2 separate regions of the Homo sapiens genome follow, and region 2 is linked to region 1. The links come from fine-mapping of genetic effects on gene expression. A gene starts in region 1. The other region holds a variant in brackets. All regions are shown on one strand. Distances are from middle to middle. Region 1 holds the start of NENF (neudesin neurotrophic factor). Region 2 overlaps PACC1 (proton activated chloride channel 1).

Evidence for each region. PIP is the estimated chance that this variant, and not a neighbour inherited with it, causes the effect. A credible set is the group of variants that fine-mapping cannot tell apart.
Region 2: its variant is the best candidate, but not a certain one, in a credible set for the expression of NENF in whole blood (INTERVAL, PIP 0.88).

Annotation. Positions count from the first base shown.
Region 1 is chr1:212,429,764-212,435,139 of GRCh38, reverse strand. NENF (neudesin neurotrophic factor) reads right to left here and starts at 2,220. Exons shown (of 4, transcript NM_013349.5): 1 at 2,020-2,220. The coding sequence starts at 2,196. LOC105372906 (a long non-coding RNA gene) reads left to right here and starts at 2,323. Exons shown (of 3, transcript XR_922577.4): 1 at 2,323-2,515; 2 at 3,296-3,399; 3 at 4,809-5,179. RefSeq lists an enhancer at 1,625-1,714, a silencer at 1,875-2,434 and a cis regulatory region at 3,858-4,145.
Region 2 is chr1:212,386,455-212,391,830 of GRCh38, reverse strand. It overlaps PACC1 (proton activated chloride channel 1), which reads left to right. Exons shown (of 8, transcript NM_018252.3): 3 at 4,731-4,940. Among named protein-coding and RNA genes, the nearest start is that of PACC1, 26 kb to the left of the region's middle. The variant A/T (reference allele first, on the strand shown) is at 2,246.

The DNA of each region.
Region 1 (5,376 bases):
AGGTATGATCCAATGTATTATACAAATTGTCACACTTCTGAGTGAAAGGGTGTTATTAATAATTATCCCTGGATAACAGGCATAGACCAGAACAATCTAGGTCAAACAACAGCGCAGCACAGCTTGAACCCACTGCACTCAACTGCCTCTCTCGTCCCTCGCTCCCCTCCTCTCTCTGGCTCCTTCCTTCCACCTACAGAGATCCTCAGGCTCCACTCCCAAAACAATTGTTTCCTACCCCTGTTTCCATCTCAAGGTCCTCTCTCTCTCAGTTAAATTTCAATCTATAACATCAACATCAAAAAACCAAGGGTCTTTTCTCAGTCCTCATCTTGCAGTTCTGGCACTCTTGCTGTAACCTCAGTGGTGAACTCTCTCTTTCCTTAGATTCTTGTGCCAGTGGTCCCAAAGATCATCGGGTCAGTTGGAGAGTCCCTAGAAGGAAGATTCCAAGAACCCAGCATATAGTTCTACTCACAGCTGGGAAGGAAAAACACAGAGGGAGAATCTAGGGGAATCTATGTGCAGGTTTCCTATGCTCTCTCCCTCCCATGAGGAAGAGCACACTCTTCCCCCAGCAACAAAACTTGACAGTATGTGCCATTCTTCTGGCAGAACATTCCTCTGCTAGAGATGCCCATTAGACTCAGCACCCAAGGTTTTCACTGGGGGCTGGTCACATGGGGCACCCTCTGCCTAGCATATACAGTGTTCAATACTAACCACACCATCTGTATATACGGCCTAGGCAAGTGAGTCCACCGTTATTGGGTAGGGAAGGGTGAGAAATCCAGACACTAGACAAGTCCCACCCTTGCAAGTAGGCTTTTCTAAGGAGAGCAGGCCTGCCATGTTAATTCTTTTCTGCACGGATGCCTGGACTCTGAACCATCTGGTTCCCTCTGCTACCGGCAAAAAGGCATCCCTTAACATCCTCACATCCCAGCCATGTCTCCCTCCCTCGGTGTCCTCACTGACTCATGGTTCTAAATGGCCCCTTCACAAATGATGCCCAAACTGGCATCACTGACTAAGGGCCAGGTTTCTGATACCCCCATGCAATCCTAGTCCATATAAGGCCAATTAACTCAGGAATTAGCGAGACCAGGCCAGAGGGTTTTGAAAAACATCAGGCCTCTTCCTGCTCTACCACTAACAGGTGGCAGGCCTCAGTTTCCTTATGTGTAAAAGCAGGAGATGGGTTCCTGCCAGCTCTGAAATACTATGGTACTATGACCTCCCCCCAATGCCGTTCCCCCGCTCCACATCTAATATCAGCCCCCTGTTGGTCCTTGTCGTGCGGCTCCAGTCCCAACCAACCCAGGTGGGCAGGTGGTTGTGAGTTTTCTGGACGCCTCTAGACTATTGACGTGTGTGGGTGTGTGTGGGCGGGGGGGTCTCTATTGACGTGTGGCGGGGGGGTTGTGGGGGTCTCTAACCTCCAGTCCACCCTCTGCGCTCACTTCCAGCTTTGGCTGAGCCCCAGGGGTACATGACCTAAAAGTGGGTTTGAGGAGTCCGATGCAGAGGCCTGGGATACAGGGGCAGGAAAAGGAAGTGCAGGCAAAGACTGGCTTATCCCAGGACCTGTCTCAATTCCCACCTAACCCAGGGAGCAGGCTCTGCTTCCCTCCCTCCGTCCCCCGCCACTCCCCACTATGCGTGGGCACAGTAAACGCCTCGGCTGATGCTAACATGAAAACCAAAAAGTTCTGAGGTCTGTACGCAGATCATCAACGAAAAGGCGGCTAGAGGGGAAATCTCCCGGGGACCGAGGGAGAAGTTCAGGGTGGGGTGTGCGGGCAAAGCGGAGCGCTCCGACTGTTGAGGACTCGTCCTCACCCCTCGGCCATCCTTCGGGGCCTAGAGAGAGGAGGCCCCCCGCCGGCCCAGGGCGCCCGCCGCGGGCCGCGCGTCCCCCAGAGCTTCCTGGGCCGCCGGCGCCTCCTGGGTCCCCGCTCGGCTCGCCGCAGATCGGACGCCACCCCGGGTCCCTCGGCCCGCGACACCCCCGCCTACCTCCTCCCCGCCATAGCGGGCCAGCTCCTCCTCGGTGAAAAGCCGCACTGGGGGCCCCCGCTCGGCAGGGCGCGGTGTCTGCCCGGCCCGGGCTGTGGGCAGCCCCGGGGCCAGCGCCAGGACCAGGGCCAGCGCTGCCAGCGGCCGCAGCCGCCGCCGCGGCGCGGGGCCCACCATGGTGAGCGCGCAGCGCAAGGCAAGGCCGGGCCAGGGCGGCGGGGCCCTAGCACGCCCGCCCAGCGTCCCGGAGTCCCGCCCCGCGCCCAGAGCCTCCCCGAGGGCGGGGACCCGAGAACTCCCGCCCTTCGCGCGCCTCCTGCGCCCCGGGGTGGGGCTGGCCGGGCTACTCGGGCCACGCAGCTGGAACCTGGAAATTAGGATTGGAATCCTGAACTCCTAAATCCAAACTACAGACTGGAAGTTACCAAAAAATGTCACAGTGGTTCCTTGATCAGGTAGAAAGATGACAGAGCCCAACATACCAGAACCTAGAAAGGTATATTTCTAAAATAAGACCCCAACTGTCTTAATTCGCTTTTATTTTTGGCTGATTTTTTTTCTTCCTGGTTGTGTTTAAGTTTCTGGTTCCCAAGGAGATTTTTGCAAAGGGTAGGGTGCTGTTACCGATACGCCCTGAAATAATAATAGCTAACATTTGTGCCAAACTTTGCTCATTACTTTATGCAACAAATATTTTTGAGTACCTCCATGTACCAGGTCACTGGGGACTCACCACTGAACAAGACAGATCCACGCCCACGTGAAGCTTACATTGTGTGGGCAGATAGACAATAAGATGCTAAGTAGTATGTTAGATGGTGGTAAATACTAGGGAGAAAAAGTAGGGCAAAGAGATAGGGAGCACTGGGATGGACATTTTATTTTATTTTATTGTTATGTATTTATTTATTTTTGAGACGGAGTCTGTCGCCTACGCTGGAGTGCAGTGGCGCCATCTCGGCCCACTGCAACCTCCACCTTCCGGGTTCAAGTGATTCTCCTGCCTCAGCCACCAGAGTAGTTGGGATTACAGGCACCCACCACCACGCCTGGCTAATTTTTTTTTTTTTTAATTTTTAGTCGAGATGAGGTTTCACTATATGCTGGCCAGGCTGGTCTCGAACTCCTGGCCTCAAGTGAACCATCCACCTCATCCACCCAAAGTGCTGGGATTACAGGTGTGAGGAACGGTGCCCGGTTATGGGGATGGTCATTTTAAATAGGCAGGTTAGGGAAGGCCTCACTGAGAACAGGGTATTTGCATAAAAATCTACAGGAGGCGAAGGAGGCGGTCTAGAGGGAAGAGCACTTTGGTCAAAGGATCAGGTGCATAAATGCGGAGGAATGAGGATGCCCGGCTTGCTGGAGGATCAAGGGAAGGTAAGAGGGGTAGGTGAAGTCAGGAAGGAAGCGGGTAAGGGAGTGGGGGTGGATCTTGGGGGCTTCACAGGTTATTTTCAAGACTGGCTTTTACTTTCAAGACTGGAATAGAGGAATTAACAGAAAAAGGGTCTCATTCCAGACCCAAGAGCAGGTTCTTAGACGTCCACGGCAAAGAATCAGGGCAAGTCGCAGAGCATAGTAGTTAAAATAGTTCATTAGAAACTACTCCATTTCTAATAATAGTACTACTGTGTTTCTGAGTAGTATCCTTGCTTTGAAGTAGTACTAAGCAAGTATTGTTTATATAGGAGCACCTCTGCCTTCAATGTAATGCTTGCTTTTATAGGGCTAAAACTAGCGTACTTCATTACAAAAGCCTATGATCAGCTTGTTACAGACTATTAGTATTGTTATTCTCTTGTGTAACTATTGACTTCAGGGAGAATTTATGGGTGTACTGTTATCTTTAAAGTGAAACTCATTTTTAAACTAAGAATGCCTTTTTCCATTATCTCATTTCCTCAACCATAAACATCTTGTGAAGAGTGCCTATCTTCCTGGGAAAGTCGCCCAGCAGGTTTGGCTTTATCTGACCTTTATTCAAGATGGAATCACTCTGGTTAGGACACTTCTGACATAATTCCCTCCTCCTTTTTACAAGGAGACCTTTAATCCTAAGGGGTGCAGGGGGACAGAGATCCATCTTCAGTAACTTCAAGCTGAACAGAAGCGATGATATTCCTGCCTAACCATTAGGATCCCTTTGCCCAAAGTAGAGAGCTAGCCAGTCAGAAAGCATCTGTATAGTGAGGACCAATCATACATAATTCTAAGTCCCAGAAAAAGGTGAAATCTAGAAAATTAACGTGTTAAATTTAAAGAAGCATTGAATAAGCTTAACTCTTATTCCTACATAAAAAGTACAATGCAGTATATTCCACAGCACAAAACAGAATGAATAGAATTATCCCAAGCATGCTAAACAAAAAAAGTTTCCCAAGGACTAGGCAGTTGTTAGAACCAAGCTGATATGGGGTCAACTGACAGCGTGTCAATGGCAGAGATGTGGGTGTCTAAGTCTTTTGTGGCCTGAGTAACATTATGTGAATAGTCTGGAATGTATGCATAACATTCTGTTTTGATTATAGCATAAGTTCCCCCTTTGAGCTGCTGTTAACATGTCCAGAGCCATAGTTTCATAAGGCTATCTGTCTAATTTGAGATGTTTCTTCAGTCAAGAGGGTAAGGGCATGGCGTGTATTATTGAAAACTGCAGCTGTGTTTAGCTATGGCTTTGGCTTGAAGCTCAATGTCAATTGTGGCTGCCTGTGGGGAGAAGACAGTGTCAGGCCTCTGAGCTGAAGCTCAGCCATTGTAACCCTTGTGACCTGCACCTATAAGTCCAGATGGCCTGCAGGAGCCAAGAAGTCTGGAGCAGCCAAAAAAACACAAAAGAAGTGCAACAAAAGAAGCTCCTGCCTTGACTGATTGACCAGCCTTACGACGTTCCACCATTATGAATTGTTCCTGTCCTGCCCCAACTGATCAATCGACCTTGTGACATTCTTCTTCTGGACAATGAATCTTATGATCTCCCCACCATGGACCCTGTGACCCCCTCCTCTGCTGACAATAGATAACCACCTCTAACTGTAACATTCCACTGCCTACCTCAGTCCTATAAAGCTGCCCCTCTCCTATCTACCTTCGCTGACTCTCTTTTCGTACTCAGCCCACTTGCACCCAAGTGAATAAACAGCCCTGTTGCTCACACAAAGCCTGTTTAGGTGGTCTTCTATACGGACACATGTGACAGATAGCCAATGGGTAAAACAACCAAGAAGACTGCTTTTGTCACTTATGACGAGCTTTTACAGTTTCCCAGTTAGATGGGAGAGATTATAATTTAGTGAGGATACATCCTGGGAGATGAAGATGACCCTATGTACATCTTCCAGTCCAATTATAAGGCAC
Region 2 (5,376 bases), 43 kb after region 1:
CTTCCAGTTGGTTGAATCGGCTACTGAAGCTTGTGCATTCATCATGTAGTTCTCATGCCATGGGTTTCAGCTCCATCAGGTCCTTTAAGGACTTCTCTGCATTGGTTATTCTAGTTAGCCATTCGTCTAATCTTTTTTCAAGGTTTTTAACTTCTTTGCGTTGGGTTTGAACTTCCTCCTTTAGCTTGGAGAAGTTTGATCGTCTGAAGACTTCTTCTCTCAACACATCAAAGTCATTCTCTGTCCAGCTTTGTTCCGTTGCTGGTGAGGAGCTGCGTTCCTTTGGAGGAGGAGAGGCACTCTGATTTTTAGAATTTTCAGTTTTTCTGTTCTGTTTTTTTCCCCATCTTTGTGGTTTTATTTACCTTTGGTCTTTGATGATAGTGATGTACAGATGGGGTTTTGGTGTGGATGTCCTTTCTGTTTGTTAGTTTTCCTTCTAACAGTCAGGACTCTCAGCTGCAGGTCTGTTGGAGTTTGCTGGAGGTGCACTCCAGACCCTGTTTGCCTGGGTATCAGCAGCGGAGGCTGCAGAACAGCGAATATTGATGAACAGCCAATGTTGCTGTCTGATCGTTCCTCTGGAGGTTTTGTCTCAGAAGGGTACCTGGCCGTGTGAGATGTCAGTCTGCCCCTACTTGGGGGTGCCTCCCAGATAGGCTACTCAGGGTTCAGGGACCCACTTGAGGAGGCAGTCTGTCTGTTCTCAGATCTCAAACCCTGTGCTAGGAGAACCACTACTCTCTTCAAAGCTGTCAGACAGGGACATTTAAATCTACAGAGGTTTCTGCTGCCTTTTGTTCGGCTATGCCCTGCCCCCAGAGGTGGAGCCTACAGAGGCAGGCAGGCCTCCTTGAGCTGCGGTGGGCTCCACCCAGTTCGAGCTTCCCGGCCGCTTTGTTTACCTACTCAAGCCTCAGCCATGGCAGGTGCCCCTCCCCCAGCCTCACTGCCGCCTTGCAGTTGGATCTCAGACTGCTGTGCTAGCAATGAGCGAGGCTCCGTGGGTGTGGGACCCTCTGAGCCAGGCGCGGGATATAATCTCCTGGTGTGCCATTTGCTAAGACCATTGGAAAAGCACGGTATTAGGGTGGGAGTGGCCCGATTTTCCAGGTGCCATCTGTCACAGCTTTGCTTGGCTATGAAAGGGAATTCCCTGACCCTTTCTGCTTCCCGGGTGAGGCGATGCCTCACCCTGCTTCAGCTCACACTCGGTGCGCTGCACCCACTGTCCTGCACCCACTGTATGACAAGCCCCAGTGATACGAACCCAGTACCTCAGTTGGAAATGCAGAAATCACCCATCTTCTGCATCTCTCTCGCTGGGAGCTGTAGACTGGAGCTGTTCCTATTCAGCCATCTTAGAACCCAATATCAATAGTCTTTTTTTTTTTTTTTTTTCTTTTTGAGATGGAGTTTTGCTCTTGTTTCCTAGGCTGGAGTGCAATGGCGTGATCTCAACTCACTGCAACCTCCGCCTCCCGGGTTCAAGCGATTCTCCTGCCTCAGCCTCCTGAGTAGCTGGGATTATAGGCATGCACCACCACGCCCAGCTCATTTTTGTATTTTTAGTAGAGACGGGGTTTCACCACATTGGCCAGGATGGTTTCGATCTCTTGACCTTGTGATCCGCCTGCCTCAGCCTCCCAAAGTGCTGGGATTACAGGGGTGAACCACCACACCCCCGGCCTCAGATATTTTTTGTGACCCATTTTCTGTCTCCAGTTACATGTCACTACACTGCTAGATACTGTAACAATTTTCCGGGCTCCATTTGGTTTTTTTTTTCCTTCAATATTTTCTTCAAATTGGATAGTTTCTGTTGATTTAACTTTGAGTTCACAAACTCTTTCTCTGCCATCTTTTGCTATTAAGCCTATACAGTGAACTTTTTATTTCATTTATTTCTTGTCAGATCTGGAATTTCCATCTGTTTTTTTAAATTTTATGAAACATTTTTACAGTGGTTAGATACACGTAATGTAAAACTCATCATCTTACTCATTAAAATGTAGAGTTCAGTGATATTAAGCACTTTCATATTGCTGTGCAACCATCACCACCATCCATCTCCACAATGCTTTTTCATCCTGCAAAACTGAAATTCTATATATTTGGCCATTGTTATTAGTTTCTGTTTCTCTATTGATCTTGTCTTTATTCCTTATTCAGATATTTTCCTTTAAGTGCTGTAAATTTTCTCTCTGCTAAATTGCAACACTGGGTCATCTTGGTGTTGGTTTCT[A/T]TAGATTGCTTTTTTCTTGAGTACAGGTCACATTTTCTTGTTTCTTAGCATGTCTAGTGATTTTTGATTGAACACTGGACATTATGAATGATATAGAGATTCTGGATTCTGTTATGATCTTCAGAAGGGTATTTTTTTTTCTTGGCATATTGTTAATATGGCAAGATTTAAGCTCTAAACTCCTATCTCCCCTGCATTAGCCGTAGTTGAAATCTCCATGCAGTTCTTTCAATTTCCAGTTGTTACTTTTTGCTGGCCCCCCCTGGGTTCTCCAGCCAAGGATCTGAACATATATTTAGTTGCAGATTTGGGAGTTTCACCCCCTGTGTGGCTCCCTCCCTTTCATGGTTTTGTCTTAACTTTCTGGCTGCTCTTCCAGCCCTGAACTTTGTCCCTGTCACTCTGAACCATGCCTTATAGGGATTGGCATGTATTCTTAGGCAAAAAGCTACAGATGTATAAATCTCACCAAGTACAGTTCTTCTCTTTCAAGGGTAGCCTCTCTTTCAATTTCTACCTGCTTTTGATCATTCTCCCAGTGCCTTCAAATAATTTAAAATATGTTGTCCAAAGTTTATAATTGTTTTCTGTGGAAGGGTGATGTGACACTGCTACTCTGTCACTGTTGGAAGCCAGATGCCAAGCAGATACCTTTTGGGGCTTACGTTCAGATGCTTCCCTTGTTCTCAGCCTTGTGCTCAGCTGGGCTGTGGAGGAAATAGGACTTCTTCTCAGGGAGCTCCATTTTCAGCTGAGGAGCAGAGAGGGCACAGGGAGCCCTGTGGGAGTATCTTAGTCAGCTCAGACTGCTGTAACAAAATGCCACAGTTGAGTGGCATAAACAACAGAAATTTATTTCTCACAGTTCTGGAAGCGAGAATCCAATATCAAGGTGCCAGCAGGATTGAATTCTGGTGAGGCCTTTCTCCTTGGCTTGCAGATGGCTGCCTTCTCATTGTGTCCTCACATGGCCTTTTTTCCTGTGTGCATGTGCTCCTAGTGTCTCCTCCTCTTATAAGGATTCTGGTCCTATTGGATCAGGCCTCATCCTTATGGCCACATTTAACCTTAATTATATCCTTGAAGTCCCTGTCTCTAAATATACTCACATTGAGGGTTAGGGCTTCAACCTGAATTTGAGGGTGGGGGATACAGTTTCGTCCATAACAGAGATTAATCTAGCTTCTAGCCTCAGGATTTTGTGAGGGAGGTAGGGGAGACAGAGTTGTGTTGTACCAATAGCATCAGGACGTGTTCAATCAGTCACCATGTAAATGCAGAATGTTCCAGGCATAGCATGAAGGGCTAAGGATTCAGTTAGGGATAAGACTGGCCCCATCCCTGCCCTCATGGAACTCACAGCCTAGGAGGATAAAAGATGTATAGACATGACATTGCAGAGTGATGAAGTAGGGGACGTACAGGGCTCCCTGGGAACACTGAGGAAGAGGTGCCCAAATAAAGGTTAGGGGTCAGGAGAGGCTTCCTCAAGAAAATGTCTTTCTTTCTTTTTTCTTTTTTTTTTTTTTTTGAGATGGAGTTTCGCTCTTGTTGCCCAGGCTGGAGTGCAATGGAGTAATCTCGGCTCACTGCAACCTCCGCCTCCTGGGTTCAAGCAATTCTCCTGCCTCAGCCTCTTGAGTAGCTGGGATTACAGGCATGCGCCACCACGCCCAGCTAATTTTGTATTTTTAGTAGAGACAGGGGTTTCACCATGTTGGTCAGGCTGGTCTCGAACTCCCGACCTCAGGTGATCCTCCTGCCTCGGCCTCCCAAAGTGCTGGGATTACAGGCTTGAGCCACTGCGCCTGGCCAAGAAAATGTCTTTCTAAATTAAAATGCTTCCATGGAAGGATGGCGTGACCAAGCTACTCTGTCACTGTTGGAAGCCAGATGCCAAGCAAAAAGCTTTCGGGGCTTAGGATGAGTGAAGCATCAGCTGTGGAAGAAAAGAAAATCAAGCAGAGGGAATGGTAAGTGTGAGGGAATCCCGGGTTGAGAAGGGCACTCCAGAAGAACAGAAAGTCGATGAGTAGAGGTGGAGCTAGAGCTGGGAGAACTGGGGAAGTGGAGCAGTGAGGGATAAGGCCAGAGAGGTAGGTTGGGGCCAGCTCACTTGTTGGATTGTAACTGCCTATCCCTCTAGAGAGTAAACTCCTTTTTTCTGTTCTTTTTGTTTGTTTTTTGCTTTTTCTTTTAACATTTTTATCGTTTTTTATCTTTTATCTTTTTTCTTTTGAGAGTAAACTCCTTAAAGACAATGAATAAGTCTCCTTCAGCTTGGTGTCCTCTACCTGGCAGAGAAGCTGTGTAGTAAATGTTTACAGGTGCCCTTTGTTATGATTTGTGGGGTGAGGTGGAAAGGTTGGGCGTGCAGGTGACTTCACCTCCTTGGTGAGGCAGGCAAGGGCCTGGAGGTTGCTGGCCATCTCTGTCTGTACCTTGTCCCTGTGCCCTGGGTCACATGGTGTTTTGTTGTTGTCAGGCCTGGACAGCGAGTCCGCCTCCAGCAGCATCCGCTTCAGCAAGGCCTGCCTGAAGAACGTCTTCTCGGTCCTACTCATCTTCATCTACCTGCTGCTCATGGCTGTGGCCGTCTTCCTGGTCTACCGGACCATCACAGACTTTCGTGAGAAACTCAAGCACCCTGTCATGTCTGTGTCTTACAAGGAAGTGGATCGCTATGATGCCCCAGGTAGAGCCTGCCCCTGGGCCAGGCATCAGGGCCCCAGATCTAGGGTGTCAGCTGGCAGATACTCCCTGAGCTGCCGTTGTATTTGTGGTACTACGGGCAGGGCAGAGGAGTCCAACCAAGCATAGTCTAGGTATAGAGTCTATGCCCAAGGAGCTGCTGTTGGGAGTGTGTTACGTGCTGAGGACAGAAATGGACAGAGCCTGGAGCAGCTACTGCAGGCTACTAGAGGGGTCAGGGAAAGCTTGGCAGAGAGGTAGGATTTGAGATGGGCCTCGAAAAGCACATAGATGGGAAGAGAGTGTCTTTGGGATGGGGATCAGCAGAGCGAAGGGGTGTCTAGGGAGGCAGAGGGCTTCTCTGGAGAGGATGAGACTAACTTGGCTGGGGCCAGAGGGCAGGGATGAGGAGAAGCAGGAGTCAAGGCTGGACTGTGGGG